Regions from separate parts of the Homo sapiens genome. Here regions 1, 2 and 3 are each reported to be linked to region 4. The links are microRNA targets in miRTarBase. Many come from high-throughput screens and were not tested one by one. Region 4 holds a microRNA gene; each other region holds the end of a gene's coding sequence.

What was found. The annotated mature microRNA hsa-miR-1224-5p reads GUGAGGACUCGGGAGGUGG and lies in region 4 at 2,930-2,948, opposite strand. An mRNA with a match to its seed (bases 2 to 7 or 8) in the 3' UTR can be bound and repressed. Matches are read on the target gene's strand: a 7mer-m8 pairs with bases 2 to 8, a 7mer-A1 pairs with bases 2 to 7 and ends in A, and an 8mer does both.
Region 1: miRTarBase lists SLCO4C1 as a target of hsa-miR-1224-5p. Seed matches in the 3' UTR shown: 7mer-A1 at 2,263-2,269.
Region 2: miRTarBase lists OXR1 as a target of hsa-miR-1224-5p. Seed matches in the 3' UTR shown: 7mer-A1 at 5,761-5,767.
Region 3: miRTarBase lists CD207 as a target of hsa-miR-1224-5p. Seed matches in the 3' UTR shown: 7mer-m8 at 2,644-2,650.

The regions. Positions count from the first base shown.
Region 1 is chr5:102,230,724-102,238,797 of GRCh38, reverse strand. SLCO4C1 (solute carrier organic anion transporter family member 4C1) reads left to right here. Exons shown (of 13, transcript NM_180991.5): 13 at 1,780-4,812. The coding sequence ends at 1,940. Among named protein-coding and RNA genes, the nearest start is that of SLCO4C1, 62 kb to the left of the region's middle.
Region 2 is chr8:106,749,462-106,757,535 of GRCh38, reverse strand. It overlaps OXR1 (oxidation resistance 1), which reads right to left. Exons shown (of 17, transcript NM_001198533.2): 17 at 4,842-6,730. The coding sequence ends at 6,595. Among named protein-coding and RNA genes, the nearest start is that of ABRA, 17 kb to the left of the region's middle.
Region 3 is chr2:70,824,922-70,832,995 of GRCh38, reverse strand. CD207 (CD207 molecule) reads left to right here. Exons shown (of 6, transcript NM_015717.5): 4 at 1-96; 5 at 1,177-1,295; 6 at 1,796-2,785. The coding sequence ends at 1,946. It also overlaps a transcript of CLEC4F not described here. Among named protein-coding and RNA genes, the nearest start is that of CD207, 6.9 kb to the left of the region's middle. RefSeq lists an enhancer at 1,284-2,483.
Region 4 is chr3:184,236,279-184,244,352 of GRCh38, reverse strand. It overlaps MIR1224 (microRNA 1224), which reads right to left and starts at 2,948; the gene lies at 2,864-2,948. It overlaps VWA5B2 (von Willebrand factor A domain containing 5B2), which reads right to left. Exons shown (of 20, transcript NM_001390846.1): 10 at 7,802-8,010; 11 at 7,604-7,715; 12 at 6,942-7,127; 13 at 5,879-6,050; 14 at 5,480-5,790; 15 at 4,770-4,959; 16 at 4,317-4,664; 17 at 3,425-3,562; 18 at 3,246-3,329; 19 at 2,949-3,166; 20 at 2,024-2,863. The coding sequence ends at 2,315. It overlaps ALG3 (ALG3 alpha-1,3- mannosyltransferase), which reads left to right. Exons shown (of 9, transcript NM_005787.6): 6 at 357-562; 7 at 723-799; 8 at 1,396-1,540; 9 at 1,677-2,052. The coding sequence ends at 1,839. RefSeq lists a silencer at 2,138-2,432.

The sequences.
Region 1 (8,074 bases), not on the chromosome of region 4:
ATGTTTAATTCTTTTTGCCTTTTGCAGTTTGTAATGTCTTGGTTAAGCAATGAATGAAATTTAAGGCAAGATTAAGATTAAGTAAAACAATGTATCTAGTTTACACTAGTAAAATAAAAGTTGAAATTTAAAAATTTAAAATTTGAATAATAACCTAGGAAACTAAAATAGCTTAGAGAAATCCTGAATGTATGTATACATATGTATCTAATATAATGTGTGATTTTCATTGTGATTATTTTGACACAGGTTGATCAAGATAGGCTATTATTACTCTTACATGCATGTAAATCCAGAGTATGCTTTCTGAGTTGATAGAGATAGAGTAATAGAATATTTGCTGAAGAAATAATCTATAAATTCTTATAGCACTTGGGGAGTAAGTATTGACAAGTATAGGCAAAATTAATCATCCCATTACTTTACCTGTTGTTAAAAACCATTTTTTATTCAATTTTTAAAATTATATATTTTTACCACAATCATGGCTACATACAATGTTTTTATGTTTAAAATTTATTTAATTCATTTTGTTTGTACTTTTTGGTCAAAGATATAGATAGAACAAATCATTCATTTTCCTAGTCAATGATGAATGGGAATCCCCCCACAAAATATATAAAACCTTAAAATTTTCAGAATGAAACAAATAAAAAAAGTTGTAAGTTGTACCTATGTAACTAATCATTCTATAGTCTAGTAATGCCTAGATGAATGAGCATTCCTGTTTTTCAAATACATGTTTTTAAACAAAATATTAATAATCAACAAAAAGAAACCAGCTACTGCAAGAACTATACTGTGAGACCACGTTGAATTTATTAGGCTGGCAATTATTAAATGCTTATACTGTGGTTGGAACTAGTTTCTCTTCATATAACTGAACTTAAAATCAGATTTACTTGGAAATAAATCAAAGTTTGTGAAGTGAATCTTAATGTTTATTTTTAGCTGATAAGAAGAGTAGATTTGGTTAAGTATTGAGTGTGATATCCTCCCACAGAGGCTTTAAGAACTCCAAAACCTTTTTAATTTTTAGAATTATTTTCTGTCCTGGAAGGGAATGTTCTTCAATTTATTCAGGTTCAAGAATGTTACAAACTACTTTCCCTCATTATTGACTTTTGGTTGCTTGCAATTTTTTATAGATATCATATTGTGTTAACGAATTTATTTATTTATTTTTGAGACGGGGTTTCTGTCTGTCACCCAGGCTGGAGTGCAGTGGTGTGATCTCAGCTCACTGCAACCTCCACCTCTAGGGGTGAAGCGATCCTCTCACGTCAGCATCCCAAGTAGCTGGGACTGCAGGCTGTACCATCCATCATACCTGAATATATTTTGCACTTTTTTTTTTTGGTAGAGACAGGGTTTCCTATGGTGCCCAGCCTGGTCTCGAACTCTTGGACTCAAGACATCCACCTCTCTCAGCTTCCCAAAGTACTGGGATTATGGGCTTGTGTTAACAAATCTAGATGGTGGCCCAATTCCTATTTAGTTCTATACAACACTTATTTTACAAGAATGCACAAGCATAACCAAGAATAAGTTAATTATTGTGCTCTATTACAGCTTAGAAAGAAAATAAGTACTAGTGACTTGAATTGTATACAAATGTTTTTTCTTTCCCCTTAATGTTTCAAAAATTTTAAACATAGAACTATAATGGTTATGTAATTATTCTCTTTAAAAATGTTCTATTCATGAAGATTTTTCTCAGTGATAATTTTTATCATAATTAAAAACAAAAGCACATGATTAATTTTTTTTTTCACTTAGGTGTTACTTGTAAAGTTATCACCATGTTCTTCAATGGATTTGCAATCTTTTTGTATAAACCACCTCCATCAGCCACAGATGTGTCATTTCATAAAGAGAATGCAGTTGTGACTAATGTTTTAGCAGAACAGGATCTCAACAAAATAGTAAAAGAAGGGTGAAATGGGAAAAGAGAAGACTGTTTTACACCTGGAAAATTTACCTCGATTTTTAAGAACACACATTGCCATGGCAGGATTATCTATCCAATATGGACAATCATATTTACAAAATTGATGTTTTTATAATCAAATGTATTTTTTTACTTATGTAGTTTTTGTTTTATGCAAGAAACAGACCTGTGCCTTCAAAGCCCACGTAAAGCCTCAAAACACAGCACACACACACACGAGCACACACACACACACACACACGAACACACACACACACACACACACGCACACATACACACTTATTTCCTATTCCCATTGTCTAGGTATGAAATCCTCAAGCAATAACAAGAAAAAAGGCCCACAATTAGAAAAATTTACATTTAAAAAAAATGTTGTTTCTATCCCCATTACAACTTGTTTAATTTTAATTTTCATTGTCAATATTTTGAGCTTAGAACATTTATGGTATAAAAATTTAAACTAATCAAAGTTGTGTGATGATTTCCGGGAATTATTATTGAAAGCCTATGAATTTAAAACCAGGTTTACCATGTAATTTGTTTTTAAATTTATGTATACTAGCCTGGCCTTTCTCCAAGCAAATTATTGAACTATTAGAATATGTTAGTTATCATCCTTGTGTCTTAGTATATAGTGAATACAGAAACATCAGCATTGTATACACATATTTTCACTTTAACTCAAGAATTCCAGGAGGTAATTTGTTGATATTACAATTTTTAACACATTTATGATTCTGTGATAATATTATTCAATTGCATATATTTCAGAGGAAAGTACCAGTCAGTAAAGAAAAATGCCAACTAAACATGAAACTATTGATCAATACTTATATACCTTTAATTTTTCCTATTTGAAAAGCCAACCACTTAACACATTACTCATAGCACCTAAGACAGTGCCTTGCATAGTGTAGTCATCTATTATTATTGTTTAATTAGAATATTAAACCCTACCCTTTAACTCAGCAGTCCCCAACCTTTTTTGCATCAGGGACCATTTTTGTGGAAGACAATTTTTCCATGGGGGAAGAAGGTATGGTTTTGAGATGAAACTGCTCCACCTCAGACCATCAGGCATTAGTTAGATTCTCATAAGGAGAGTGCAACCTAGATCCCTTGCATGTGCAGTTCCCAATGGAGTGTGCACTCCTATGAGAATCTAATGCCACTACTGATCTAACAAGAGGTGGAGCTCAGGCAGTAATGCTCACTCACCTGCCTCTCAGCTCACCAACTGTGTGGCCCGATTCCTAACAGGCCACACACAGCCCAGGGCTGGGGACCCCTGCTTTAACTGATGCATTGATTTGATAAAGTATTTTACAAGCCTGATAATGTTATAACCCTGTTTATTCAGGTCAGATTTATGCCAACTTTGCTGAGAATATGGAGGGTATAGATGAGTGAACATCAACAAACATAACTTCTACCATGGTTAAGAATTTTACTTAGGAAAAGTATTGAAGTTCAAATCCAGATAGTATTACATTTGAAATTGTTATAAGGGTTATTAATTTAATAAAATTCATCATCAGGTTTCCCCTATAAGCTTTCTCCTAGGTTAATTTTCCACAAGCATTGTTTTATATACACTGTAATCAGGATAACACAAGCTTAGTGTTAGATCTTGTAGGAAACCAAGATTAGAAACATTAGAAATTTGCAGAATTTAAGAAATTATGTTTTGTGGTAATCTATGGCCAACGATGTTAGAACCTAGCGCAATTGTAAAGTGAAATTCAAGGAGAAGGAATGAGGAGTTAGGGAAGCAGCATACTTGAATATTAGAGAAGGAGAGGAGCTGTGGGTCAGGAATCAGAGAGACCTGCTAAAACCAGACAGATATAAACACCAAAGACGGAAGCCAAATAGGTAGCCAAAAATCCAGATATTTGAGAAGCAGGAAATTTATAGCAACCAAAGAAATAGGGCAAGAGAGGCAGGTGAACACACATGATACCTCAATTGACAATCTTCCTCCCACCAAGCCAGACACGTTGTAAATGCTGCTTCCTATTGGAGCCCAGAAAAAAGGAAAAGGAAAGTTTAGGCTTTCTTTGTCCTTTGTGTGGAAGCAGGGAATTGGATTGAAGACTTTCATAGTTGTAACATAAAGGCAAATCCTGAGGAACTCACTGATGGAGATGTGAAATGGCAGTAAGGAAGAAAACAGAATAACTGAACAAATATATTAGTCTAGGGCCACTTAATTTAGAGGAAGAAAAAAAATCAACCCATCCATAGAAATAGTTTGATAAACAGGTCACTAAATCATTGGCGTTTATAAAGATTCTTAGCTATCAAGGGCTGCATTGTATTTTATATACTCAGTTTTATAAGGTGATACTTTTTAAATAAGCGCTTTAATGAAAATGGTTAGACTGAAAATAATTTTGGTCCTTAAAAGGAGTCAGGAGCTTTTATATATAAGGTACATATTTTAAAAGAATACCTCCTTTATAACAGGGTTTTACAGACACTACCATAATTTATAATCATTATTTTTTACTTTTGGGTTCACCTAGATCATATGAGTTGATGTGATACTTCTAGAACAAAATTATTCATAGTGCGTTTTTTGTAATTTATGATTGTTAAGTAAGCTTGACTTATAAATTGACATTGTAATTGTGTACATAATTGGATATATGTGTTAAAATTTAACATTTAGATTTACTTAATTGTAGAAAATACAAATGTAAAACTTACACATGGAAAGAACTGTATGCAGTTGACTTTACTATGTAAATTGGAGGGAAACAAAGTTTTAGATCCATTTTCTTTCAAAATTTTCTTTATTGTAAAGTATGCAAAATATATATTCATACCATTTATTAAATCAGAATGTTTATACAAAATTGTCGTGTTTGAGCTTATTAAATGACACAGGTTTGAAACTTGCCTTATCTCTGTGAACATAAGCATATTTTATGGATGGGAAAGGGAAATTAGTATGCTTTTGAACTTGGTGAATGTATTAATAATTTAATCCAGTGATTTCTTGTATCTCAACAGATGTTTTTAATTCAATACAAACCACATGTATTATGAAATATATATTAGGGAAATTCTCTTACACAAGTTTCTACATATGACAGATTAATATATAAGATTTATATAAGTAGGATACATTTTACAGATGGTTTATTTGTAAACTATCTGATAAAAAAGTGTGGGATGTGTTTAATTTATCTCAGTTTATTGTAATAGTAAAATATTTTAAGGAAATAATATTAGATGTTAATTTGAAATGTAATGTTCTTTTCCCCCAGGCTCCTTCAGCTTTTTTTTCAGTAAAGTCCAATAAACACTAACTTTTACAGCACATATGAGTAATCAAAAATAGATGAAAGATAATCCACTTTGAAAAACTCAATGGGTAAGTTGGATTATAACATTTTAGTGCTTCAGCTAAAATTAATTTAGCTTATAAAAATTATCAAGAATTGATCATTTTTTTCTTTTCAAATTTAGTGCGTCTGACTTTCCATTTAAAATTTTATTTTGTAGTGCTTTTAGACTTTGTAAAATAGTACACATAAAATTCCTCTATAAGCTTTCTCTAGTGTTAATATTTTAAAAATCCATAGAACAATTACCTAAAACTAGAAACAATTACGAAGAAACTAGCATTGGCATGATACTATTAACTAATCTACAGATTTTATTATAATTTTGCCAATCATAACACTAGTGGTGACAAGGACAGGAGGCTGGGAAATTCTGGGCAGAAGAGAGCGAGTCCTGGTAAAGGCCCCACCCTCAAGCCTGGAACTACAGCCCAAAGTGAGAACATGCATTCCTGTTTTCCTGCTCAAATGTTGCCTTTTCCAAAACCACCCATGGCCCACTCTGCCCCCTATCCTGTGCCATCCCAGGCTTTGCCAGCAGAGCAGGCGAGGAGAAGATGAAAAGCAGCTGGACATTGGAAACTGGTTTGGGGCTGGAGAGAAGAAGTCCAGGCCACTGGACTTCAGGAAAAGATCATCTTCCTGCTCTATCCCTTTTCCAGCTCCCCTTGCGGCTGAGAGCCACTTTCATAGGCAATAAAGTCCTTCACATTCACTACCCTTCAATTTTTTCATGCAACCTGATTTTTCCTGGATGTTGAACAACAGCTCATGTGCCACGGGTGCGAATGCTAAAGGCTATCACTCTGACCCTCTGCCCTCACTGGTGGAGAGCAACTGCCTCACGTCAAAAGGCAGAGCGCCTACTGAGCTGTTTCACACTTAAGCCGTCAGCAGACAGCAAAGCTAAAAGAACGCTGTAAAGCATGCCCCTGGGGCTTCGGGAGTCGTGGGTACTCCCCATTAGATGCTTCCATGGAGCCTGCACGGCGTTTCCTGTTGGTGCCCCAAAGCACTCACCCTGGCTCCTGCATCCACTCACTTATGTGCTCTCTTCCACAAGGGGTTGAGCATAACAGGTTCTAGTGAGTGGAGTTTACCCCTGCTGGCACCAAAGCAACCAGCTAGCTCCAGTGTCCACACTCCAGTTCCCCCCTGCAAAGGGATCAGGGTAATTTCCTGCTTCAGTGGTCTTTATCTGATCTGAACCCAGTCAAGGATCCCATGTTAAATTTATTTATTACTGCTTCTTAATCTTTTCCAATCTGGAATGGTTACCCAGTCTTTTTTCTTCATGATATATTTCCTCTCTATGTCTATGTGTCAAATAACTCTAAACTTCAGTGGCTTAAAACAGGAAACATTTATTATCCTACCATTTTTGTGTGTCAGGATTTCAGGAGCAGCTGTGCTGGGTGGCTCTGGTTTGAAGTTTCTCAAGAAGTCTCAATAAAGATATTGGCTGGGGGTGTAATCATCTGAAGGGTTCTCTGGGATTGAGTAATGTGCTTGTAAGAAAGTGTGCTCACATGTTTGTTTGAAAAAGAACTTCATTCCTCAACATGTGAGCCTCTTCATAGGTCTTGTGACGTGGCAGCTGACTGCTACCAGGGTGAATGACACAAAAGAGAGTGAGAGCAACCAAAACTGAAAGCACAGTGTCTTATATGATTTGATTTTAGAAGTGACATACCATCTTTTCTACCACAGTCTACTGGTCATACAGATGACCTTAGTAATCTTAATTCCAGCTGCAAAGTCCTTAAAAGGATTTAAAAGAACTTTGCAGTAAACTAGAAGACCTTGATTCATATTTGGTTGAATAAGCCAGGGAGGAGAACACATCTTTACAAATCTGCCTACCATGCCTGGTATAGAGTGGGAAGAAAAGACAAAAGGTAGTACCAAGAGGCATGCATATTGTGACTATCATTGGGGTGATATTGGGGGCTGTCTACCATATATTACCTTGACAATTTTGAAAAGGATTGGCCAATTATTTTGTGGAATATCTATCAATTTGGATTAGTCTGATGTTTTCTCATGATTATATTAACATTATACGTATTTTTTGGCAAAAATGATATACTCTTCTCAACGCACATATTAGCGAGTACATGTTGTCTAAATATGACAGAACTTTGATCACTTGGTTAAGGTATGTATCTGCCAGCAATGACCACTCTAATTTTATTTTCTCCTGTGTTATTAATAACTAGCTCTTGAAGGGATACTTTGAGACCATCCAAATATCCTGTTTCTCAGCAAACTTTCATCCACTAATTTTAGCATCCATTTTTGATTCTTGCGTGCTTAATATGGTTTTTGCTAATAGTGATTTTCTGTATTCATCACTTGTGTAACATGTATTAATTGGTATTGTAATCTAAGAAAGAACTGTCCCTTTCTCTCTGTTTATTTAAAGTTACTCTATTATTTGAACAAATATACATTAATTGACTAGGTTATTATCCACTAGTTTTTTTTTGTCAAATGGTTTTTATGTAGACATTGGAGCCACATTATGTTGGCTCCTGTGTTTTTTGGACATCTTTACAACATTATTTGAGGACATCCTTACTTTTTAGCACCACAAGATACTCCAGGCTCTTCTTATACTTTCCATTATTTAAGGATCAAACAATTGAAAACCAAGATGTGCATGTTAACATACATAACATCTATTTCTATGTTAATTTATGTGTGTATGAATATGGATACCTCCAACTGCAATCCAACACCATAGAGTTCATGTTAATCTTCCTTTTCC
Region 2 (8,074 bases), not on the chromosome of region 4:
AAAATAGATGCAGCCATGAAAGAAAAGGAATATCTTTTAAGAAGTGAAATAGAGGGCCAGGCACGGTGGCTCACACCTGTAATCCCAGCACTTTGGGAGGCTGAGGCAGGCGGATCACGAGATCAAGAGATCGAGACCATCCTGGCTAACACAGTGAAACCCCGTCTCTACTAAAAATACAAAAACAAAATTAGCCGGGCCTGGTGGAGGGCGCCTGTAGTCCCAGCTGCTTGGGAGCCTGAGGCAGGAGAATGGCGTGAACCTGGGAGGCAGAGCTTGCAGTGAGCTGAGATTGTGCCACCACACTCCAGCCTGGGCGATGGAGTGAGATTCAGAGTATACCTCTTTATAGGGTTAGAGGTTTTGACTTTTGGGAACTTAAATATTATGCATGAAATAAAGTAAAATCAAATAGAAGTAGGAGAAAAACTAAAATTGGACACAAAGCAAATAAACTGAATTCTATTTTATCTTATTAAAATAACTACACAGGAAGAAAAAAGAAATGTACCCAACTTTTGAATACAATACTTTTTGAATAAATACTTTCAGTCTAAAGACATAAAAGAACTACAAAGAAATGTCAAATTCTACTTAATTTTGGTGTTTGGGAGGGCATGGGTTTGGCAATTCTGAAATTCTAAGGTGTGTATCATAAAATGAAGCAAACAAGTAAATACACAGATGTCCTGACTGTGGGGGAAGAGACAAACATGGAATGAGGGAAGACAAGCAAGAACTCTGTGATGTGAGATTGCAAGGAGTGGTATTGGTGTGAATTTATGCTGTATTTAGATGTCTCCTGAAAGGCCCTAAAGTGATACCACCCTAGTAGCAACAAGTGCCCCTGATTCTAAATAATATTCTCCTGCAAAGGAAATATGGGTCCTTTCAGAAATGGCTGATTCTAGGATTGGGTTACAGAAAGTACAAATAAATCTAAAACATTTTTGTTAAACGAGGAGTAAGCAAATGCTCAAGAAAATTGAAAAACTCATAGAAATAAGACCGATGGGGTTCTGACTGGTTAAGTCTAGGATAGAAATTGATTACGTAACCTTTTGAATTAGAAAAAAGAGAATTCGGCCGGGCATGGTGGCTCACGCCGGTAATCCCAGCACTTTGGGAGGCTGAGGCAGGCAGATCATGAGGTCAGGAGATCAAGACCATCCTGGGTAACACGGTGAAACCCCGTCTCTACTAAAAATACAAAAAAAATTAGCGAGCGTGGTGGTGGGCGCTGTAGTCCCAGCTGCTGGGGAGGCTGAGGCAGGAGAATGGCATGAACCCGGGAGGCGGAGCTTGCAGTGAGCCGAGATCGCGCCACTGCACTCCAGCCTGAGTGACAGAGCGAGACTCCATCTCAAAAAAAAAAAAAAAAAAAAAAGAAAAGAAAAGAAAAAGAAAAAGAAAAAAGAGAATTCATTAGTTCATACTGATAATACATATTCATAAATGATGGAGAAAGGAAAGCTCTTCCTTGTAGTAAATGGCAATGGCAACTAATGTGTTGGGAATGAAAAAGTTTAAAAATACGCATCTCTCTACATATTACTTATTACACAAGGAAAACTGATAGCAGGAGAGAAACATGGTAGACACTATCTAATCAAATAATCAAAGCTAATATCACCAATAAAGGGATAAACATACATTATGTGCACCCTGATTTGATGCAGAGGACAACACTTCTTTGGTTTTCCTATGAAAAATGCATAACCAAAATTTAAGCATAAGGAAAAATTCAGACAAATCCACATCAAAGCACATTCTACAATCCTGAAATTTTTCAAACACACAACTAACTGTCATGAAGCAATGAATAATGAGCTCTTCCAGGTTAAAAGAGATTAAAAAAAAAAAGGGCAGAACAATTGAATGCAATGCAGGATCTTTGGATCATGAACCAGGAAAAATAATGCTTGAAAGGATATTATTAGGGTCACTGGAGAAATTTGAAATGAATTACATATTAGACCATATTATTGTATTAATGTTAAATTCCCTGAATCTGATCATTGTACTTTGGCTATTTAGGAGGACATCTCTGTTCTTAGGAAATGCATACACATCTTTATAGGTAAAGTGAAACAATGAGATGCAGTAAATTAATAAGTAGGGTGTGTGGGTATGTGTACAGGAGGAGAGAGGATGGGAAGTGAAGAGAGCAAGCAAATAGTTCTGTAAACATTCCAGCACATCTCTTGGTAAACACATATACATATTACTGTTCAGTACATATCACTGAATTAAATTTGCTGGTCAAAGTCATGTGTATACTTAGCTTTAGTGGATACTGCCAGAAACATTTTCCAAGGTTGTTCCACTCTACATTCCCTTTTAAAACAGCTTTCAGTTTTGGGTTTTACATTTAAGTCTTTAATCCATCTTGAGCTGCTCTTTGTGTATGGTGTAAGGAAGCCGGGGTGATTCTTCAAAGACCTAAAAGCAGAACTACTACTCAACATAGCAATCCCATTACTGGGTATATACCCAGAGAAATATAAATCTTTCTACCATAAGGACACATGCATATGAACGTTCACTGCAGCGCTATCCACAACAGCGAAGACATGGAATCAACCTAAATGTTCATCAATGACAGACTGGATAAAGAAGATGTGGTACATATATACCATGGAATACTAAGCAGCCATAAAAAGAATGAGATCATGTCTTTTGCAGGAACACGGATAAAGCTGGAGGCTATTACCCTTAGCATACTAATGCAGGAACAGAAAACCAAATACTACATGTTCTCACTTATAAGTAGGAGCCAAATGATGAGAACTTATGAACACATGGAGGGAAACAACAGACAAAATGGTCTACTGGAGTGGGGGTGTGGGAGGATGGCAAGTAACAGAAAAGGTAACTGTTGGGTACTAAGCTTAATACCTGGGTGATGAAATAGTATGTACAACAAACCCCTGTGACACGTGTCTACCTATGAAACCAACCTTCACATGTACCCTCAAACCAAAAATAAAAGTTGGAGAAAACAACAGCTTTCACTCTTATTGGACACCTTCTTACTTTCAATGATGTCTTTTGATGAAGTGCTTAAAGTTTTAATGTAGCATAATTTATTTTTTTCCTTTATATTTAGTGCTTTTTGTGTCCCATTAAAGAAATATATGCTTACCCTAAGGTCATGAAGATATTCTCCTATATAAACTAATGTCTTTATTGTTTTGCTTTTCACAATTATTTTTCAATCTCTAATTGTTTGTGGTGTGAGATAAGACTTTTTGTTCCATATAGATATCCAATTAATCTACCATCTTTTTTTTTTTTTTTTTGAGACGGAGTCTTGCTCAGTCGCCCAGGCTGGAGTGCAGTGGCACGATCTCTGCTCACTGCAAGCTCCACCTCCCAGGTTCATGCCATTCTCCTGCCTCAGCCTCTCGAGTAGCTGGGACTACAGGCGTTCGCCACCACACCCGGTTAGTTTTTTGTATTTTTAGTACAGACGGGGTTTCACCGTGTTACCCAGGATGGTCTCGATCTCCTGACCTCGTGATCCACCTGTCCTGGCCTCCCAAAGTGCTGGGATTACAGGCATGAGCCACCACACCCGGCCTAATCCACCATCTTTTATTGAACAGACTGTCTTCTTTACTGAGCAGACAGCAGTATCACCTTCTTCAGAAATCAGTTTCTTTCTGAACTTTTGACCAATATATTGTCTTTCTTACTCAGCTTTCTAATAAATCATGATTATCTGATACTGAAGACCAGACACTCAATTCTTCCATGATGGCTTAGCTATTCTTTGATTTTACATTTCCATATAAACTCTACAATCAGTTTAATTTCCAAAAAATAAGCCTGGGTGAGATTTTCACTGTCAATATAATTTAAGAGAACTGATATCTTTTAATCAATATTGTCTGCCAGTAATGAATATGGTATATCCTTCCTATTTTGGTCTTCACTTTGTTATATATCTGATATTTTCAATGGTATTACAAATGGTAATACATAAATTTCATATTTGTTTGCATATAAAAAGTGAAAGAGTTTTATTGTTTTTTGTTGACTTTTAAAGTTCATCTTTCAGAATAGTATATAAAATGTCCTACTCCCAAAAAGTTTATTCTCCTGTTTCTCACATCATACTCTCATAAAGTCCACGACTAACTTCATTTTGCCACCTGCTTTTTTTTGTTTTTCCTCTATGTACCTTGCCCATCTTGATAAATAATACAACTAAACTCTTAAATCAAAATCCTGGGAGCTATCTTTAACTTTTTCTGACATCCAATCAATAATCAACTCCTGTTCATCCTAACTCATAAATCCTTTCCAAATCCATGCTTCCTTATTACCATTACCACTGTTCTTATTCGGGCCTAATCATTTTTTTTCTGGACTTTATAAAAGGCTTGTTTTCCCCTTGTCTCTAGTTGTTCCTTCTACTCATCTATTTTTCACAGATATTTTCCTAAAGTATACACCTGATCATGTCATTCCTCCTCTCAAATGTTAACTGAACCTACGGGATACAAAATATCAAAATTTCTTGGCATTGCACACACATAACTGTTTATGATAAGGGGCTTAGCTTGTTATGCATTCTCCACCCAAAATGAAAACAATGTACTTTAAAAATATCAAATAACTTACACTTTCCCATGTGTCAAGTGCCTTCTCCCATCTCCATTTTAAAAAATGTAATGCTCCCTCTAATTGAATGCATTCTCCTATCACTATTACTCCTAACACCATGACCACCACCACCACAATGTAAGCTATTAGAAGCATTAAAAAAAAAAAGATAGTAGTAGGCTTAATCAAAGACTTGTTAAGAAAATGAGTATTCAATAAATCCAAACTCATTTGTATTTCTGTATTTGATTTTATTTGGTATATGCCACTATGACCTTATTTTAGTAGAAATCCATTACAGGATTTTTAAATTATCATTAGTCAACTCCACAAAGACAATAATACTGCTGTGGAAGACCGAAGGGGAAAAAAACTGATATATTTATTTACAATTCCCTATATTGTAAACATTTAATCTATATATTGTTACTAACTTATAATGAGACAAGGAAATGATGCCCTGTATTTCTATTCATATTCAGCAATAGCATATTATAATAGAACATCAGATTTTCTTTTCCATTAGCATTATGCTTTCTTTAAATAATTATCTAAACTTTCAAAAGAACTAAATATGTAAGTGCTATACAACTAAATCTACTTAAGCCAAATATTTGGCTTATAATTTCATTTTTAGAATAACTTAAAGTGCTATAAGCAACCTGGCAATCAACACTTTCTGTAAGAACAAAACTACACCTTTAAACATTAATTTACAAGATATACAATGTTTATCTGGAATAGCTGAAATTTCAGCACAAAGTCACTGTCACATGTATAACAGCAGGATTCTTTTTTGCATAACATGAAGCTTTAAAATCAACTGATGAATTATTGCCACAATGGCTATTATTGGTTTCCTACAAAAGAGGATAAGAACTACTAGTGTATTCTATCTTTTCATTTTTTTTTTGAGGTCACTTGACAGTAAGTTTGCATATTCAACAAGTCTACTGAGTTACAATATTGTCTACTATAATCATTGCCCTTTATAAGAGCAAATGCTAATGGTAATTAATAACATATACCACTCAAAGAAAATCACAATTTTTTTTTTCCTTTTGAACAAGAGTAACCTATATTTTGGGAGTTGGTGTGCAATAAGGCTAAAACAACCAAATTATAAAACAGTATACCTGACACAGTATGTTGAGGAAATATGCATCTGTTTCATAGTTTTTGTACTTATGTTAATGCCTTACTAAGCTACACATATGTAAATAGTATGTTTTCTTGCTAATATATTAAATCCAATAGAATCATTAAGTTCTCATTCTCCTTTGTGACTTGTAACTTTATCAGATAATTTAATGATGAAAGCATATGCCCAAACCTGCAGATCATATGTACTGTCATCTATTACAACCAGAATTCTCCTCACATTTCATTTTTCTTAAAAGGAAATTGAGAATACCTGCAACATCGTTAAAGAGAATGTTGTAGTGTGAATAAAAACTAGAACTCAGTGGTCTATGAAGTATGTATTATTTTGGCAAGTGATTTTTTCCTTCCTAAGAATAAGATGAACATGTCCAAATGTTACCTGTGCCAACTTCACAGATACAGAAGTATCCAGTCTTCATTTCCTCAATGCCCCAATTAGACTGTTCTAGTAAACGAATCAATATAGTTAAAAAAAAAAAAATCAATACAGGTTCAACAAAAGAGCACCATCCTATTAGGGAACTGAGTAACATGTGAAAATGAAGTTGTCATTATAATCAAAATGTTGCCCAAATTCTAACAAACCCAAGCTGTTATACTAGTACATGGACGCAGTCCCTAGTGTTAACCTAAAGAACTCTGGGACAAGAACATGATTTGAAAAATAAACTCCAAAATTATAACTGTAATAAATGGTGATACAGACTAATTTTAAAGCACAAGTGACATGTTACACTGTATTGCTTCTTGAACTTTCCAAACAATGCTTGTCCATGTCAGGTTTGGGCCATTCTCCTGCTAAGACAGAGAGCATTTTATTTATTCAAAAGCCCAGATTTCAATATCTTGGATAAAGAAATCTTCCTTCTTAGAAAGTGTACGATTCCCAAACGTTTTACAAGAATGGCTTCTTCCATGGTAGAGATCTCCATCAAGCCAAAGCGCAAATTCTCCTCTGCAATACATAAATAATAATCTGTTAATATTTATGCCTTAAGTTATAAAACAATTTAAATGAGACTTTGAATACCTAACAACCCTAAAGTTATTAATTTTCTCAAATCCTTCCCTACTCCTTTCCACACTGACACAATTTTGTTTTACTCCTATTCCATTAAAAAATTATTTATGGGCCGGGTGTGGTGGCTCATGCCTGTAATCCCAGCACTTTGGGAGGCCGAGGCCAGCGGATCACCTGAGGTCGGGAGTTCAAGACCAGCCTGACCAACATGGAGAAACCCTGTCTCTACTAAAAAATACAAAAAAAATTAGCCAGGCGCGGTGGCACATGCCTGTAATCCCAGCTACTCGGGAGGCAGAGGCAGGAGAAGCACTTGAACCCAGGAGGCGGAGGTTGCAATGAGCCAAGATTGCACCATTGCACTCCAGCCTGCGCGACAAGAGTGAAACTCTGTCTCAAAAAAAAAAAAAAAAAAGAAAAGAAAAGAAAAGAAAAAAATTATTTATGATACAGACCAGGAACAGTGTCCTCTATAATGAACTTTATATAGGATTAGCTTTTGAGACAGGTACTACGCTGTAATTTTTTGCCTGGTATTATGAGTTTTTCTTTGGGTATTTTTTTTAGTATGGTTTTTTTTTTGTGTATGTGTGTGTTTATCTTTTCGGTATGGTTTTAACATATTTAACATGACTTTCGCAAAGGCACAAAAATTCAGTATCATCTAAAATAAAATTTGGGGATTCATGTTAAGGACCTAGTAAATAACTCTGGTTTCCTGCATAGGAAGCTGTTTGCAAAAGAGCTCAGTTTGAAAGGACTTTAAATGGACAAATATGTGATGTTGAGATTCAAGCAGAAGAACCAAGATATAATCTAGGTATAACAGGAACTTAACAGATAGATTATAAGGTCCAATTTATCTAATTATCTAATACATAACCGAGAGGGGAAAACACCAGGTTATGAGAGGACTTCTTTCTATTCTCTAGAAAATGTTTTCCTACCTAATAGAAGAGGAGAGGGGGCAAAGACTATTAATTAACATAATATCCAGAGAGCTATCCCTTGGGATTCTCTAAATCTAAAGTAATATATCAAGTCAGCAGAATTGAGCCAGAGTTTAGGAGGCGGAGGCTTTTTTAAAAAATATGGGCAGTTATATTTCATTGAAAGAAAAAAACTGGTCTGGGATCAAGACTTGTCTGTCAACTCAGTGGCCACAACTTATGTCAAACTTAGTTAAGTCACTTAACCTCTCTGGGGTAGAGTTTGTCAATTATATTAAAACACACAAAAAAGAAAAGCATATTAGGTAATTGTAAAGACTTACACAAC
Region 3 (8,074 bases), not on the chromosome of region 4:
TACTTTTCTCTCATTCCAAAGACCTGGTATAGTGCCGAGCAGTTCTGTGTGTCCAGGAATTCACACCTGACCTCGGTGACCTCAGAGAGTGAGCAGGTGAGTGCTGTGCCTATGGGCTCTGTGAAGGGGGCGTATGAGCACTGGGCCAGGGAGGATGGGCAAGATTATACTGCGTGAACAAAAATCCCCAAATATTGATGACCTAATGAAGAAGGATTGGTTCTCAGTAGCATGTCGAATAAGGGCCGGCAAGGGGGCTGTGCTCACTGTGGCTACTCAAGGACCCAGGCCCAAGGAGTCTTCATCTTAATATGTCTCCACAATTGCTGGGGCAGGAAAGGGGAACTTGACATATTGTGCAAAGCTTCTGCCCAGATTTAACATACCTCATTTTTGCTTACATTTCACTAGCTTAAGTTATGTTAATTAAGTTAAGTAAGTTATGCAGTACTCCTGGATTGGGAGGATCCTGGATTCCAGTACTCCTGGAACAGGGCAGAGAGGATCTACTTTCCATGTGCCCAGAAAAAAAGAAATATTTGTGAACAGCCTTAATGATTCCACATGACTCAAGAAGTCTCCTGCCTGGTGAGGCAGAAATTGGGCAGGCCCTTTTCATCTGGGAGGTGGGATAGCAGAGCAGGTCAGAGCCTGGGCTCTGGCGTAGTTCTAGAGCCTGAACCTTGCCATCTAACTAGTCCTAGCAGCTTGGGTGGAATACCCAACTTCACTGGGCAAACTTCACTGGCCCTCACTTGATGAAACATGCATGGTGATGGCACCTGCCTCAGAGGAAAGGAGAGAATGCATATGGACGACTCAGCACAGTGCCGTATGTGGATTCAGGGCTCATTTAATTCAGGTATTATCATATGAACCATTCTCTTGCGGTCCGTGCTCTGGAGTTCAGCTGAGGCCTTCCTGTGCTTCAGCACCTGCTTCCTGAGTGGCAGAAAGGCTTGAGTCCTGAGCTTGTTAGCTGCAGAGCAGGGACACATCATAATCTGGAAGATGAAATCTGGGCTCTGGGCAAGGGCAGGAAGAAGCTTGAGAGGCCAGTTTGTGCAGCGCATCTGTGGGTCAGGGCTGTCACTGAGCGCAGGTGAAGAACACCCAGAGACAGATGATCAAGCTCCAAGTGTGGCCGCACCTCTGCTTATCCTGTCTTTCCTACAGGAGTTTCTGTATAAAACAGCGGGGGGACTCATCTACTGGATTGGCCTGACTAAAGCAGGGATGGAAGGGGACTGGTCCTGGGTGGATGACACGCCATTCAACAAGGTCCAAAGTGTGAGGTAAGCCCCTGGAGCCCTCCGTGCCAGCCTGACTTTCCCCGGCCATGGCCAGGGCATGAAGGGAGTGGGGGCGATGTTCCCCATGAGACAGGGTTTCTGATTCTTCCCTGTCTTAGAGTGACAGGAACATTGCAACCAAGATCGAGCACAACCCTGTCACCAACTGGCTGTGGACCTGAGCCCTCCACGCCCTCTGGGGTTTGGCAACAAGGCCTTCTACCTGGCCAGCTTCAGGGATCTTGTCATGAGTCTAGGTCTTCACAGTGTGGGTTTGTGTAGGGACTTGAAAGTGGTGGGTTGGTTTGGCCTGGACTTGGGGCATGTGAAAGCTTAGAGGTCGAAGTCTCACCAGTCCCCTTCCTCTGAGGCTTGGGTGCAGACATTTGCTATGCCATTCCCTAGGACAAAAGCTTGGGTTGAGTTAACTCATTTCTTCACTGGAAATAAGTTCTTTTTGATTTTCCACTTTGTAAATCCATCTTTTTCCCCGCTCTTGGTAGGTTCTGGATTCCAGGTGAGCCCAACAATGCTGGGAACAATGAACACTGTGGCAATATAAAGGCTCCCTCACTTCAGGCCTGGAATGATGCCCCATGTGACAAAACGTTTCTTTTCATTTGTAAGCGACCCTATGTCCCATCAGAACCGTGACAGGACAGGCTCCCAAGCTCACTCTTTGAGCTCCAACGCTTGTTAAACATGAGGAAATGCCTCTTTCTTCCCCAGACTCCAGGATGACTTTGCACGTTAATTTTTCTTGCTTCAAAATTGTCCCACAGTGGCATTCTGGAGTCCGTCTGTCTTGGCTGGAAATTCTCTGACGTCTTGGAGGCAGCTGGAATGGAAAGGAGAATTCAGGTTAAAGTGGGAGGGGTGGGTAGAGAGGATTTAGAAGTTCCAATTGCCCTGCTAAGGAGGATCAAGACCCGTAATCCGGCATAACACCCTGGGGTTTTCCACTCTTTCAGAGAAACCTCAGCTTCATCACATCAAAGTTACTCCAGAGCAACCAAGCAATTCTCCTGATATTGTCATCCAGGGCTTTTCTTGGCCAAACCCCCTAGAATTTCCATGTCTCTGCTTAGCTGTGCTGGCAGCTAGCAGCTGGCTGTGTTTGCAGTGCAAATAGCTCTGTTCTTGGAAATCCTGCTCATGGTATGTCCCCAGTGGTTTCTTCATCCACATCATCTAAAGCCTGAACCCGTTCTTCTCTGGTTCAAGTCAGTGGCTGACACGGACTTGTATCTCCTTCAGAGCTCGGCTGGCACCCAGCCTCCCTTCTCCTTCCACTCCCTTAGTACACTGGAGTGCCGAGCCCTGCCTTCCACCCAGCGTCCATCCAGCCCCTGTCCTCACCTCTCCGGCACCTCCTCCTCCTTCTGCATTTCCTATCTTCCTGTGTCTTGTGCATGGGAAGCAGCCTTCAGTGCCTTCATGAATTCACCTTCCAGCTTCCTCAGAATAAAATGCTGCCTGGGTCAAGGACTCACTCCAAGTGCACTTTTTCATTTCTGGTTGTCCAGGTGAATATGTGGGAAAGGCAGTCTCCTCTGGTGGACATGAAGTTCTAGGGTATCCTCAGGAAACATCTGGGGAGTCAAAAATAACAAGGACTGGGGAAGTTCCAGTCCTGGAAATGCCACAAAATGTGACCAGTACTTATCTCTAGTTTTTATTAAAGTAGAGCAAGGTCTCCAATGTCACGATCTTGGTGATCTTTCTTCTTGTTTACTGCACAATCTTCTAGTCTATAGCTCAATTCCCAAGAACAAGTCTCAGCAGGTTCCCCACTCTTCACAGAGACCCAGTTCCACAGGCATCAGTTCCAAATCCCAAGTCCAGTGGCTGAAGCTGGAATCCAGGCAGCAGCCACCACAGAGAGGAGAGGAGGGTGGAGTGAGCACAGGTCTTCATTAAGGTCCTCAGGAAAAGATGCTTCCTTAAATAACTGTAACCAGCAGTGTGTTGTTCTGGGTGCAAATGGGTCACAGCTGAGGGCACAGGCTTGTATTGTAAGACCTGAAATACCACGTGCTGCTGTGACATTTTATGCCTCACAGGGCCCCAAAGACCTAACCCTGAGTTCCCTGCCTCTCACCAGATATATCCTTGCCCTCGGTCCCCACCTGGCTAATTTCCTATCATCTGGACCAGCTGCATGCCACCCAGTTTTCTACTTAATGGGTTTCACTTCTCTGCCAGCCTGAGAAACTATTCAAACAAGCCAATCACATCCTCCTACAGGAATCCGGGGCATCTCATCCTTTTATTACTACAAGGCCTGCCTCCCACAGCCCTGGCTGGTTCACTCTGCTCCTGAGGGTGACCCCATGTGGCCCTGTGTGGCTTATGATATCTTTCCCCAGTAGACTGTATTTGTGACTAGTAAACTGCTGCCAGTCTCACCTGCACAGTGTCAAATGTCTTGTTTTGGCCATCTTGTCCTATTTAGAGCAGGGGATCCCTCCCTCACCAATGGAGGAAATGGGAGGTGACAAGAACAAGGCTGGTCGGGGATCTCTGGTTGGTTTTGGCAAAGAGATGAGCTGGGAAAATCAGACCATTTCTCTGGGAAAGAATTTGAACCAGGAAATAGCAAGAGGATGAGGCTGTTAACAAAAGGAAGTTGAGCTGGAAGGCACTGAGTTAAGAGAAAGGCTGGAGGGGCCGTCACGTGGCATTGGAAGAAACTAGCAATGAGCAGAAGCTATGAGGCAGGGGAAAGACATGAATACAGGCCTGGCATGGTGGCTCATGCCTATAATCCCAGCACTTTGGGAGGCTGAAGTGGGTGGGTCACCTGAGGTCAGGAGTTCGAGACAGCCTGGCCAACATGGTGAAACCCCATCTCTACTAAAAATACAAAAATTAGCCGGGCATGGTGGTGGGCACCTGTAATTCCAACTACTTGGGAGACTGAGGCAGGAGAATTGCTTGAATCTGGGAGGCAGAGGTTGCAGTGAGCTGAGATCCCACCACTGCACTCCAGCCTGGGCAACAGGGCAAGACTTTGTTTCAAAAAAAAAGAAGTGACTGCAGAGGATTATAGTTGGCAGAGAAAAGAGAACGGCTCAGAGGAGTCGCAATGGAGGTCCCGGAGGGCAGCCTGAAGGGCTCCGGCTGCTCCCGTTCCCAGGGCTGCCTCAGATCCTCCCAGCCCTTCTGATCCTCCTGGTTTCTGTGCATGGGGACCTTACGAGGCTGTGCTCCTGACCCCAACCATTGCTTTTTCTTGAAACTGAAAGAGCCTGAGTCAGTGAGGATGTGTTTTTATCTGGAGTCTGTGCCCCAGCCTGAACCCAACAAGTGCAGCATTGCCTTGGCTTCCTCCCTTGAGGAAGCTGGGACACCTGTCGCTTTGCTTTGTCTTGTGACTTTGGCTCCCTCCCCCACTGTATGCATGCCTTGCTTCTCCAGGGAGGTCGCTACATGGGCACCTGCCCTTCTGCTGGCAGTGTGGCCTCGCCCAGGAAGTCCCACCATTGATAGTGCTCTAGTCCTGTCTCTAGCAGGTCTTGGGGTGTTATCAATACCTGGGCAGCTCCTCGTATCATGGACCCCACAGTATTTCTTGTGAAATTCTGGGGATTTTTCCATTGTCAGGTGAAAAGTTGGGAGCCAGGGACAGGTGAGAACTTTTTCTCAGTCAACTTGGGTATTTATTGTATTACATTAGTTGTTTTCTTTCTTTTTTTTTCTGATTTGGCAGGCTAACAATGCTTGACATGCCCTCTTTCAATGTTGCAATAAAATACTCTTGAAAAATTTATCCTTTTGTGTTTGAATATAAAAGAAGAGAAAAAAATACTTGAATCACCCCCACTGACCAACTAGTCCTAATGCTCGTGAACATGTACTATATTTTATTTTTCTGTTTTTATGCTTTATTGATCTATCTATCTATTGAATCACTTCATTTTCTCTTTGTCATTCTCTCTCGCTTTCTCTTTCTCTCTCTCCTCTTTTTCTCATATTGTATGAGCTATGCTTTCTTTGCTTTAATTTTCCCAGTGCTTTGGAAGATAAGCCATTATTTGGGTGGGGTGTGTGTGTGTGTGCGCGCACACACGTGTGTAGTTGCCTAGCACTTCCCCTTTTTCTTACAAAGCACCCTGGCTTCTGGGATTATTGGCATTATTCCTGGCATTGTTGCCCTGGTTGGGGCTGGGCCCTGGGCATGGGGGCTGCCATTGGCTCCCTTGGTGACCCCACCTGGCCAGGGCTCCAGGTAGCCCCCAGCAGGGCAATGCGTTGCCTCCCTCACAGATTTCAGGCCCTCCTTTCTCTCTGCCTCTCTGTTCCCATCCCAGACCTCCAAGAACCTCCCCTCCTATCTGTCCCAAGGCAACTTTCTTTTTTTTTTCAGGTCTCAGAATGAATCTCTGTTTTTGGGGGAGAAAACACAGGCTACCCAATTTATGATAAACTCAGTGTGTTTTCAAAAAGGAAACTTTTATTGTTCTGTGGGAGCCTAAAGCGAAAGGATTTCGTAAGGCTTCCTGAGGAAGAGGCACATAAGCTGAGCCTTGAGAGATGAGCAGAATTTAGGCAGAGTGGGATGGGGACACAGACGAGGAAAGAGAGAGAAAACAGAAAATGCAGAGAAGGAGTGTGACAGGCCTGAGGCACCAAGAGAACTCCAGTCTAGCTGGAGTGTGGTGTGAGGTGAAGCAGGGGACAGGCAGCTGTTGGAGGGCCTTCAAAGCCAGAGGAGGGGTTTTGGATTTTATGTGAAGGACAAGGAGGAAACATTGAAGTGTTTTAGGCAGATGAGTGACATCTGTTTTTTACTTAGTGTTGAAGAAGCGTGACAAATGATTTGTTACATTTGAAAGCTTAAATGCTTCCAGGAATAACAAGATCTACAGACATGCAATAGAATTATGTCACTGGAAAACATTTGTCACACTCTTGTGGTTCTTCCTTTATCCTGAACAGCTTCTTGGTTTAGGTATCTTCCTGTATTTTGAGTTCACCTTTTAAAGTTAGAAGCAGAACTAGCACTTACAGCCTTCCTTGCAGAAAAGTGCAGGCATGAGGCTAGATGCTTTGGGAGGCCCTTTGGGAGCCAAGGCAGGAGGATCACTTGAGGCCAGGAGTTGAAGATCTGCTTGGTCAACCCAGTGGGACCCCGTCTCCACAAAAAATACAAAAAAAATTAGCTGGGTGTGGTAGTGCGGACTTGTAATCCTAGCTCTTGGGAGGCTGAGGTGGGAGGATTGCTTGGGCTCAAGAGATTGAGGCTGCAGTGAGCTGTGATCACACCACTGCATTCTAGCCTGGGCTACAGAGCAAGACCCTGTTTTAATTTAATTTAATTTAATTTAATTATTTATTTATTTTTAAAGTGCAGTCATGTGACCCAGGGACCACCGGTCAGATTCAACCATGTGAGACCTTTGATTTGTCCTGGTGTTTTTTCAGAGCTCAGACTAGATTTAGTGCTGCCGTTATTGGAGCATTCCTCCTGCCAGCATAGACTCTAAAGCTTGACTCTGGTCTTCTGAGATTCCATAATTACTACTTATGTCTTTTTTTAATTTTGATTTTTTTGAGACAGGGCCTCCCTTTGCCACTCAGGTTGGAGTACAGTGGCACAATCACAGCTCACTGCAACCTTGAACTCCTGGGTTTAACCAATCCTCCTGCCTTAGCCTCCTGAGTACCTGGAACCTCAGGTGTGCACCACCATGCCCAGCTAATTTTTTTTTAATTTTAGTAGAGATGAGGTCTTGCTATGTTGCCCAGGCTGGCTTCAAACTCCTGAGCTCAGGTGATCCTCCTGCCTCAGCTTCCCAAAGTGCTTAGATTACAGGTGTGAGTTGCCATACCCAGCCATCCCTAATATCTTTTAAATACCTTTTTAGGCTGGGCTCAGTGGCTCATGCCTGTGTTCACAGAGCACAGAACTCAAGGAGAATCACTTGATCACAAGAGTTTGAGGCCAGCCTGGGCAACATAGGGAGACCCTGTCTCTAAAAAAAAAATACAAAACTTAGCCGTGTGTGGTGGCGTGTGCCTGTAGTCCCAGCAAATCAAGAGTCTGAGGTGGGAGAATTGCTTGAACCTGGGAGGTCAAGGCTGCAGTGAGCTGTAATCACGCCACTGTACTCCAGCCTGGGTGATAGAGTGAGACCCTGTCTCAAAAATTTTTTTTAAAAACTTTATATTATAGAATAGTTTCAGCTTTACAGAAAAATTGTGAAGATAATACAGAGAGTTTCTATATACCCACCCTTTCCCATTTCCCCGATTGTTAACATCTTATATTAGTATGGTACATTTGTCACAATTAATGAGCCAATATTTAACTGAAGTCCATACTTTATTCAGATTTCGTTGGTTTTCCCCTAACATCCTTTTTCTCTCCTAGGATCCCATCCAGAATACCACGTTACATTTAGCCATCATGTCTCCTTGGGATCCTCTTGGCTGTGACATTTTCTCAGTCTTTCCTTGTTTTTGAAGACTTTGACAGTTTTGAGGAGCCCACTGGTCAGGTACTTTGTAGATTGTCCCTTAAATGGAATTTGTCTGGTGTTTTTCTCATGATTACATTGGGGTACTGAGTTTCAGGAGGAAGACCATGGAGATAAAGGGCCATTCTCATCACATCCTATGAAGGGTACATACCATCAATAGAATTCATTACTGTTGGCGTTGACCTTGATCTCCAGGCTGGGGTAGTGTTTGCCAAGTTTATTGACTCCAGAATTACTCTTTTCTCCCTTTTCCTGTACTGAACTTTTTGGAAGGAAGTCACTATATGCAGTTCACAC
Region 4 (8,074 bases):
AGGCTGGTCTCAAACTCCTGGGCTCAAGCAATCCTCCTGCCTTGGCCTCCCAAAGCGCTAGGATTTTGGGCATGAGCCACCCTGCCTGGCTTCTGAGAGCCTTCCTTGCTCTGCCCAGTTATGACTTGGTGAATCCACACCTTAAAGCATTGTTATGACCTGCCTCCTGAGCTTCTTTGGCCCCAGGCACTGGCCTGGGCCGGGGGGTGGGGAACGTGGTTTTCCTGCTATTTCTAGTGGGAATTGGGGAACCTCTGAGGCCTACATCCCCGTCCCACACCCCTCAATGAGTAGCATGAAGGCTGGTCATTGGGAATGAGCCTTGGCAGCTCTGCTGACATCACACCAATCCTCAGGTGGTGCTGGGGCTGCCCTTCCTGCTGGAGAACCCCAGCGGCTACCTGTCCCGCTCCTTTGACCTTGGCCGCCAGTTTCTGTTCCACTGGACAGTGAACTGGCGCTTCCTCCCAGAGGCGCTCTTCCTGCATCGAGCCTTCCACCTGGCCCTGTTGACTGCCCACCTCACCCTGCTCCTGCTGTTTGCCCTCTGCAGGTGGCACAGGTGAGAAAAGGCAGTAGTGCCATGGGCAGAGTTGGGGGAAGGAGTGAAGGGCCTAAGCCTTAGGGGCTGCTTGGGGGAAGTGTCAGTTAAGCTCATGGGGTGAGTCTAGAGTTTGACTCACAAAAGGGGCTTGATAACTGTCTGAATGGCTTTTCTCCAGGACAGGGGAAAGTATCTTGTCGCTGCTGAGGGATCCCTCCAAAAGGAAGGTTCCACCCCAGCCCCTTACACCCAACCATATCCTTTAAATTGTGGGAAGGTAAGTCTTGCCCTCTCTAGGTGCTGACAGAGTCCTGGTCAGGTATCCCTTGACAGCTGGTGACCTGGGCGAGGAAAGGGGACCCCAATCATAGAAGTCCTATTCTGCACCACTGTGCTGAGCACTTCACATATTGAAGGATATTTGATTCTTAATTCTAAATACGAGCTACTCTTATGAGTACTTCTCCCTGGTACTATCATAAGAGATTTACATATGTTCTAATATTGAAAGCTCACAAGAGACCCCGAGACAGGGAGGTACACTTACATTTACTATTCTCATTTTACAGATGGAAAAATTAAGACTTCATGAGGTTAAGTAACTTACCAAGGTCACACAGCCAGTAAGTTAGGGGTTCAAACCCACAAGACCTTATGGCCCTAGGTATTACTCTCTCCATATTCCATATTTGGTTGAGGAGCAGGTCCAGAGAGGTTAATAAACTTGCCCAAAGGCATGCATCAAGGAATGGCAGAGCCAGAGGGCTATGTGACCTAAAAACTATTGCCCCTCTGTTTTGGGATAGTCCCCCCCACACACACTCCTGCCCTTGGCCTTGACCACCGCATACAGATCGTTTCTACCCTCTTCACCTCCAACTTCATTGGCATCTGCTTCAGCCGCTCCCTCCACTACCAGTTCTACGTCTGGTATTTCCACACACTGCCCTACCTCCTGTGGGCCATGCCTGCACGCTGGCTCACACACCTGCTCAGGTACCAGCTGGGACAACCTGGGGGAGTGGGAAGGGATAGGGAGTTCCTGTTGGGGGTTTATGTCTAGGGCATGAGGAGCTGCAGGTCTGCAGGCCTTGCAACTGGATGAAACGTGGAACCTGTTTCTCATCTCCAGGTTGTTGGTGCTGGGGCTCATCGAGCTCTCCTGGAACACATACCCTTCCACATCCTGCAGCTCTGCTGCCCTGCACATATGCCATGCCGTCATCCTGCTGCAGCTCTGGCTGGGCCCGCAGCCTTTCCCCAAGAGCACCCAACACAGCAAGAAAGCCCACTGAAGTCCACCCCTTTCCCTCAGGACCTGAGTCTACCCTCAGGACCTGGGGTTGGTTGGACTCTGCCCTTCCAAATAAACCTTGCTAAGTCCAACTCTGTGCAACCTACATGGAGGTGGGGGCAGCCGATGCCTGGTCCAGGCTGTGAGGGACACGTATGGAGCAGATAAAGAATTCACTCAAGCAGTCCTAAGAGGCACTTTATTGCATAGGATTTGGGGACTGTGGCTCTCTACCCTTCCACTGTGTTGCAGGGAGCTCAGAGGATGGAGGGGAGTGTGAGTGGGGTGGGAGGAGAGGGAGAGAGCACAGGCAGGCACTTTTTGTGGGGGCAAGAGGGCTCTAGGGAGGGAGTAAGAAGCAGTGGGGGACAGGCTGGCACCAGCCTACACTTTCCCAGCACCAAGAGGCCAGCCCTGGGCGGCAGTGACTTGAGTGTGTTGGGTGGGGCGCCAGCCCAAGCAGCAGGGGGCAGCCTTCACACGTTCGCTGGGCTGTAGCACAGCAGGTGTAGCTGCAGGTTTTGGTCCCAGTGGCGCAGTAGCAGGAAGAGCCCTCGGGCTGCGGCCTTGAGGGCGGCCAGGTCAAGGCCGTCAGGCAAGTGCTGGGCCCGCAGCCAGCAATCAGCCTTGGCCGCTGTCAGTTCCCACTCGTCGAAGGCAGCGGCGCATCGGTGCTCCAGCCAGGCGAGTGCTACGGCAGTGGCCCAGGTCCGGCCCCGCAGGTCGGTGCCGCCCAGCCCTTCCGCCCCCTCGGAGGCCTCGGTGTCTGAGCCCCGCCCACTGTCCACCTGGCCTGGCCCCTCAGAGCCCGAGCTGGGGGACGGGCTGCAGGAGGCCGTGGCACTGTCACCCTGGCCAACACCAGGGCCCAGAAGTGCCCAGGGCAATGAGGCCGAGGTGGGGCTGAGGCTGGCGCGGTGCACGGCAAAGGGCGAGGCACGGCAGAGGCGCTCCTGCGAGATGCGCACAGCGGCGCAGAAGGGCGCGTCCAGGCGGAAGGAGCCTGGTGCCTCCTGCAGCCGCACCTGAGGAGAGAGGAGGTGGGGGGAGAAGCGAGCTGAAACAGCGCCCGGCCCCGGCGGCACCACCCTCCACCTCCCGAGTCCTCACCAAGGGCAGGTAGTCATGGTCGCTGCCTTCACTGTTGTTGGCCTGGCCCGGGTCAGGGCTACAGAGTTTGTGACGGCGGCCCATGCTGAGCCGACAGGGAGGACGGGGAGGTGGGCGGCGAGGACCTTCCGTGGGAGTGGCAGGGTCCCCCAAAGCACGCTTGGAGTTGCCATTTTGGTCCGAGTCCCAGGCGCCTGCTGGAGAGCCTCTCTGAAGTCCTGCAGTGGGGATCATCAGTGCCAGGGGGCGGTCTCTAAGCCCAAGTGCCCCTACCCTTTCCCTACCTTTGGGTGTTACCTTTAGAGTAGACAACAGTGGGCAGAGGAGCTGCATCTAGATGGCTGTGAGAGGCAGGAGGGGTTCCTGGGGGCTCAGCGGGCTCTGCAGGGGCACATGGGACAGGAGTCAGGTTTGTCCAGGAGAGTGGCCAGTGAGGTGAGAGCTGCACCTGAGAGGTCACCAGAAGAGGCCCCTACCTGAGCTGCACACCTGCAGGGCCCCAGGCAGGACCTCCCTAGTAGTAGCATCCACAGCTACAGGGCAAGTGAAGCAGGAGGGGGCAGAGCTGACCTTACTTGTCTGAAGGGCTCGAAGCCAGCACCTCCGGGCATGGCCTGTGGAACCAAGGAGCAGTCTGTGGAGCCCCCACCACCCACCCTCTACAGAGGGCTCATAGAAAAAATTGCAGTGTTCTCCCCAGCTTCTCCCTCTATCGACTTTAACAGAGTAGATTGCCTTGCTAGGCCCAGAACCAGCTCAGACTCCCCAACTTTGACAAGAAGTGATCAGGCTGAATCTTCAACCCATAGCAGAGCAAGAGCCCCCTGGCTGCCCAGAAATTCAGCACTCTGGACAACACCCAGAGGAAGCATTAGCTGGCACATTTTCCTCCACCTGCTTCTGCACTAATAAAACTTGGAAATGTTCTCTCTCTTCATGATCCAATGTGGTAGCCACTAGTCACATTTGACTATTGAGTACTTCAGCTGTGGTTAGTGCAACTGAGGAAATGAACTTTAAGTATTTTCCTAAATGACAAAGATTTGTTTTTACGTTGTGGGTGCTGTGAATCATGACAGGATCACGTTGCCCTCTGTGCTGGCTGCTAGGAAGCTTGTCAGTTCTGGATCTGATCCTTGCAAGAGTATATAACCTCACAGCATGCACCTTTAATATAACCTCATTCTCAGTTTCCTTTTATTTTTACTTTTTCCCATTGTCCCGCTTAATTTTTTATCTTGTCTGTGATGAGCCTCAAATCCTTTGTGATCAAAGCGAGGTATAGAGAGTGATCAAACACACAGACCTCTACCTTTGCTGTTTTTAGCCCATGCCTTTGGGTCCTGACTGGACCCATGAGCAACTCACCCCGGTCAGCTGTGGTCTCTGCCCCTCCTCGGAGGGCCAGCTGCTCATTGTCCCGGACCACAGAGGCTGCTGTCAGCCGATGGAGTGCTTGGTCCCAAGCAGCTTCTCTTACAGGAGGTGAGGGAGGCTGTGAGCCATCTCCAGGTCCCCACAGTGTCTCCAGCCCAACACCCACCTCCCAGCACATGGGCTGCTCCCCACACAGGCCCCGGATCACCACATGGCAGCGTGGAGCCTGGGGAGGCACTGCTGGAGGGGCCAACTCCCCACTAGGAGGCACAGCCGTGAATAAGAAGGGTGGTTCCATCAGCATGTCCCAGTCCATAGGGGCTGGGGAGAGCAGGTTTCCTGGGGAGGCAAGACAGCAGGGGCATGGGCAGAGTGGTCCTCTGGGCTTTACCTCCCCAAGGCCTCTTTGGTGTCAGGGAAACCAGCTCCCCATCCAACACTTACCTGAGTCATCCAGGCCTTGTCCCAACTGTTGGCCTGGCTCAGGACTTGGGCCATCTAGTATTGCACCCAAAGAGGGTTTCCGGGGTCGGCCGGGGACTTGGTTTGCCCGGCCTGGAGGGGATGAGAGGCTTCGGCCAGCCAGAGCCGCTCTGTGCTGACGGCCCAGCACCTCAGTACTCAAGGCCCCCACCTGCATGTGAGATATGGGGGCCACTGGTCAAGGAATGCAGAACCCTTGACCATCATACATGGGTGCACAGCTGGCCCATGCCCCTTTTCTGAAACCCTGGGTGGCCGCTCACCAGCTTGAGGAGGAAGGCCAAGTTCCTTATGGCCTACAGTGACCTCTGGCCTTGGCCCCTTCCCAGCATCATCCCACTCCACTCCCTATTTCCCACTTGTGGTTGTTGCTTGTCTCTGTATTTTCGTTTATGTCTTCTCCCTCTCTGCATGGCTAACTCGTGCTTATTCTTCCAGATATGGCTCTGACTTTCCTGACTCTCTCAGGCAGAATTAGTCACCCTGACTTTAAGCCCCCTTAATACATGTCCTTGTGCTCATCACTGGTTGTTACATGGTATCGTTGGGGATTTACCCACCTTTCTCTCTAGCTAGACTTAATAGTAAACTCTACATAATATCTGGTGCACAGCAGGTGGTAAATAAATATTTGCTGGATACAAGGCGAATGAATGTGGGTTGGATCTCACCTTGAATGGAGCTGGTGTGGGTGCAGGCAGGGGACAGGAGCGGGAGCCTGCAGGTTCTCCCCAGGCCAGACTGCGGCAGCCCTGCTGAGAAGGGGGCTCCAAGGGAGCACTACCTTCGGGGGAGCCAGGGCCCTGTGAGCCTGGGGACTCACTGCTGCCTGTGGAGCCTGGGCCTGGCTCGGGGCTGGCAGAGCAGTGGGTGAGCACATACTGCTCCCGAATGTACGAGGACTGAAAGATGCGGCGCCATATGGCTGTGTCAGAGGGGTTGGGTCCAGGATCCGTGACTGGGTCTGTCAGAGCATCAGTACCTGCTGGGAGGCAGTAGAATGGGCCCTAGCCCTGACCCCTCCCAGCGCCCACTCCAATACAGCCACACACATACACCTGGGCACTCACTCTGCTCCGAGTCCCTGGCAGCCCATGGGCTGGACAGTTCTGCTGAGACAGTGCCTGTTCCCAGTGGCTCTGAGGTGCCAGTGGGCTCAGTGCCAGGGCTGGCAGCAGACGGGGCCTCTTCTGGGGATGGAAACACGGACCCACCCGAGCTCTGCCAGCCAGGCTCTTGGCCCTAGAGAGAATATTATTGGGAAAAAAATTAACTGCAGTTATGTGCTACCTCTTTCCAAACATTTTTAGATGGCTCACAGCAAGAGGCAACAAAGCTAATAAACCAGAAACAAAAGACCAGTACTAAAGAAGGAGGAAGCAGACATGTTCACTGTAAGGGTTAATAGAGCTGCTGGGAAGCTGAGCTTTAAGTTTGGCCCTGAGCTCCCTGGCAGCCAGGCAAAAAAAAAAGTCTGTTATGCAGCTCTCATGATCAAAAAGGAGGAAGCGTGCAGAGTTCTTCTAAAGAGATAAAGCTTTTCATTAAAAAATAACTACCATGTCCCCAGCTCCTACTGTGTCAAGTGTTCTGCCAGGAGTACTCACTTTATGACCCCTGATGACAACCACCTGTGAAAAACCTCATTTCCATATGAGGAAATGGGTCAGTGAGGTGAAGTGACTTGCTCAAATCAAATGGCTGGTAAGTGACAGAGCTGGGATTAGAGATTGTGCCTAGGTTATGCTCATCCATCACTGCGTGTCCCAGAAAATACGCTGGCTGGTGCTTTCTATAGGGAACTATGTGAAGCCATGAGCAAGCCTTGACGGAAACCTCATAGCAAATGCAGGTGCTGTTTTCTGTGGCTGTGTGCTTTAGTGACCTTGGGTAAAAACTGAGGGGTAACACTTTGCAGGACAACTCAGTGGAAGACTCCATGAAGGGGACAGGGTGTGGTCATCTTAGGGGGCCCAGTGTGATCTCTGTGGAGTCCTAGGGGATAGTAGAGAAGCTTGGTAGAGAGAGGCACAGAGAATGGAAAAAGGGTTTGGAAGAGATGCGGGGACTTCAGCCATCCCAGGCCCCCCTACCTCACCCTAGCCCCCCTACCACACCCCAGCCCAAGCTTACCCCTGGTGGGCGGGACCGGAAGCCATCCACCCTGAAGAGTGAGCAGTAACCGAGCAGCTGGTCCCCAGGGTAGAGTGCTGGGATCTCCCGGGGGGTCAGCAGTGCCTCCACAGTGTCGGGCACAAACCAGTCCACAGAGATGTCACTCAAAGCAGGCTCCAGTGCCTTCCGCAGAGCCTGTACCAGCTGTGGGGAGTGGCCACAGGGAAGACATGGGAAGGAAAGAGGTGTCATACGGCCAGACAGAGCAGGAAGGCTGCCCTTCCCCTGATGCCATCTGCCCAGCCCCTAAGCTGATGGGGCACAGGGCCAGGCTGGGGTCAGGAGAAGGAATGAGGGTAGGAGCAAGCAGGGGGCTGAGTGCTCAGCCCTCAGGATTTGGTCTGTCTCCTGGCCTGAGCTTTGCCACATGGATGGGGCAAGACTGTGAGGACGAGGCTCCGTTCCAGGACTAAATGGGATTCAGAGGGTGGTCAGAGACAGTGTCCTGACACCTTTGGCCTTCACAGCACCAACAGCTCTTCCCCTGATTGGAGTGGGGAGAAGGCCTGGTGAGGGCGCCAGGAGCCCCCATGGCCTGCCTGAGTTCTGTTTCAGACTTGATGTGTAACTTGGGAGAAAAACTTCCAGGTGTAGGGAACAGGGCCCAGGCTCAAGCTCACCATGGGCTGCAGCCTCTGCCCAGGCCTCAGGAAGTAGGCCTGGCCTCTGCTGAGGGCAGATAAACCCTGGAGCAGCTGGTGGCAGGTGGGCCCCAGCCCAAAGGAGAAGCATCTGATGAAGGAAAGGAAGCAGCTGTGATCTTCAGGAGCCCCTTGTGGGGGCTCAGTCTTACGCATCTGGTTCTGCCCATCCCATACCTGGCTGTCCCCCTGTGCCACCTCATGAGCTCCAGGGTTCGGTGGGTAGTGGCGGCCATGGGTGAGGCAGCAGTGAGCAGGAACAGCTGCCGAGGGTAGGCCCTGTGCTGGGGCTGCCCCACGGCCCAGTCCAGAGCAGCCAGCACGTCTGGGGGCCCACTCGGAACCTGCAGGGTCTCAATGCTCTCGCAGATCAGCTGCACAGCATCCTGGAGCGAGAAGGCACAGGCTGGGACGCACTGGGCTGAAACCTCTCTGTAAGGCCCCCAGATC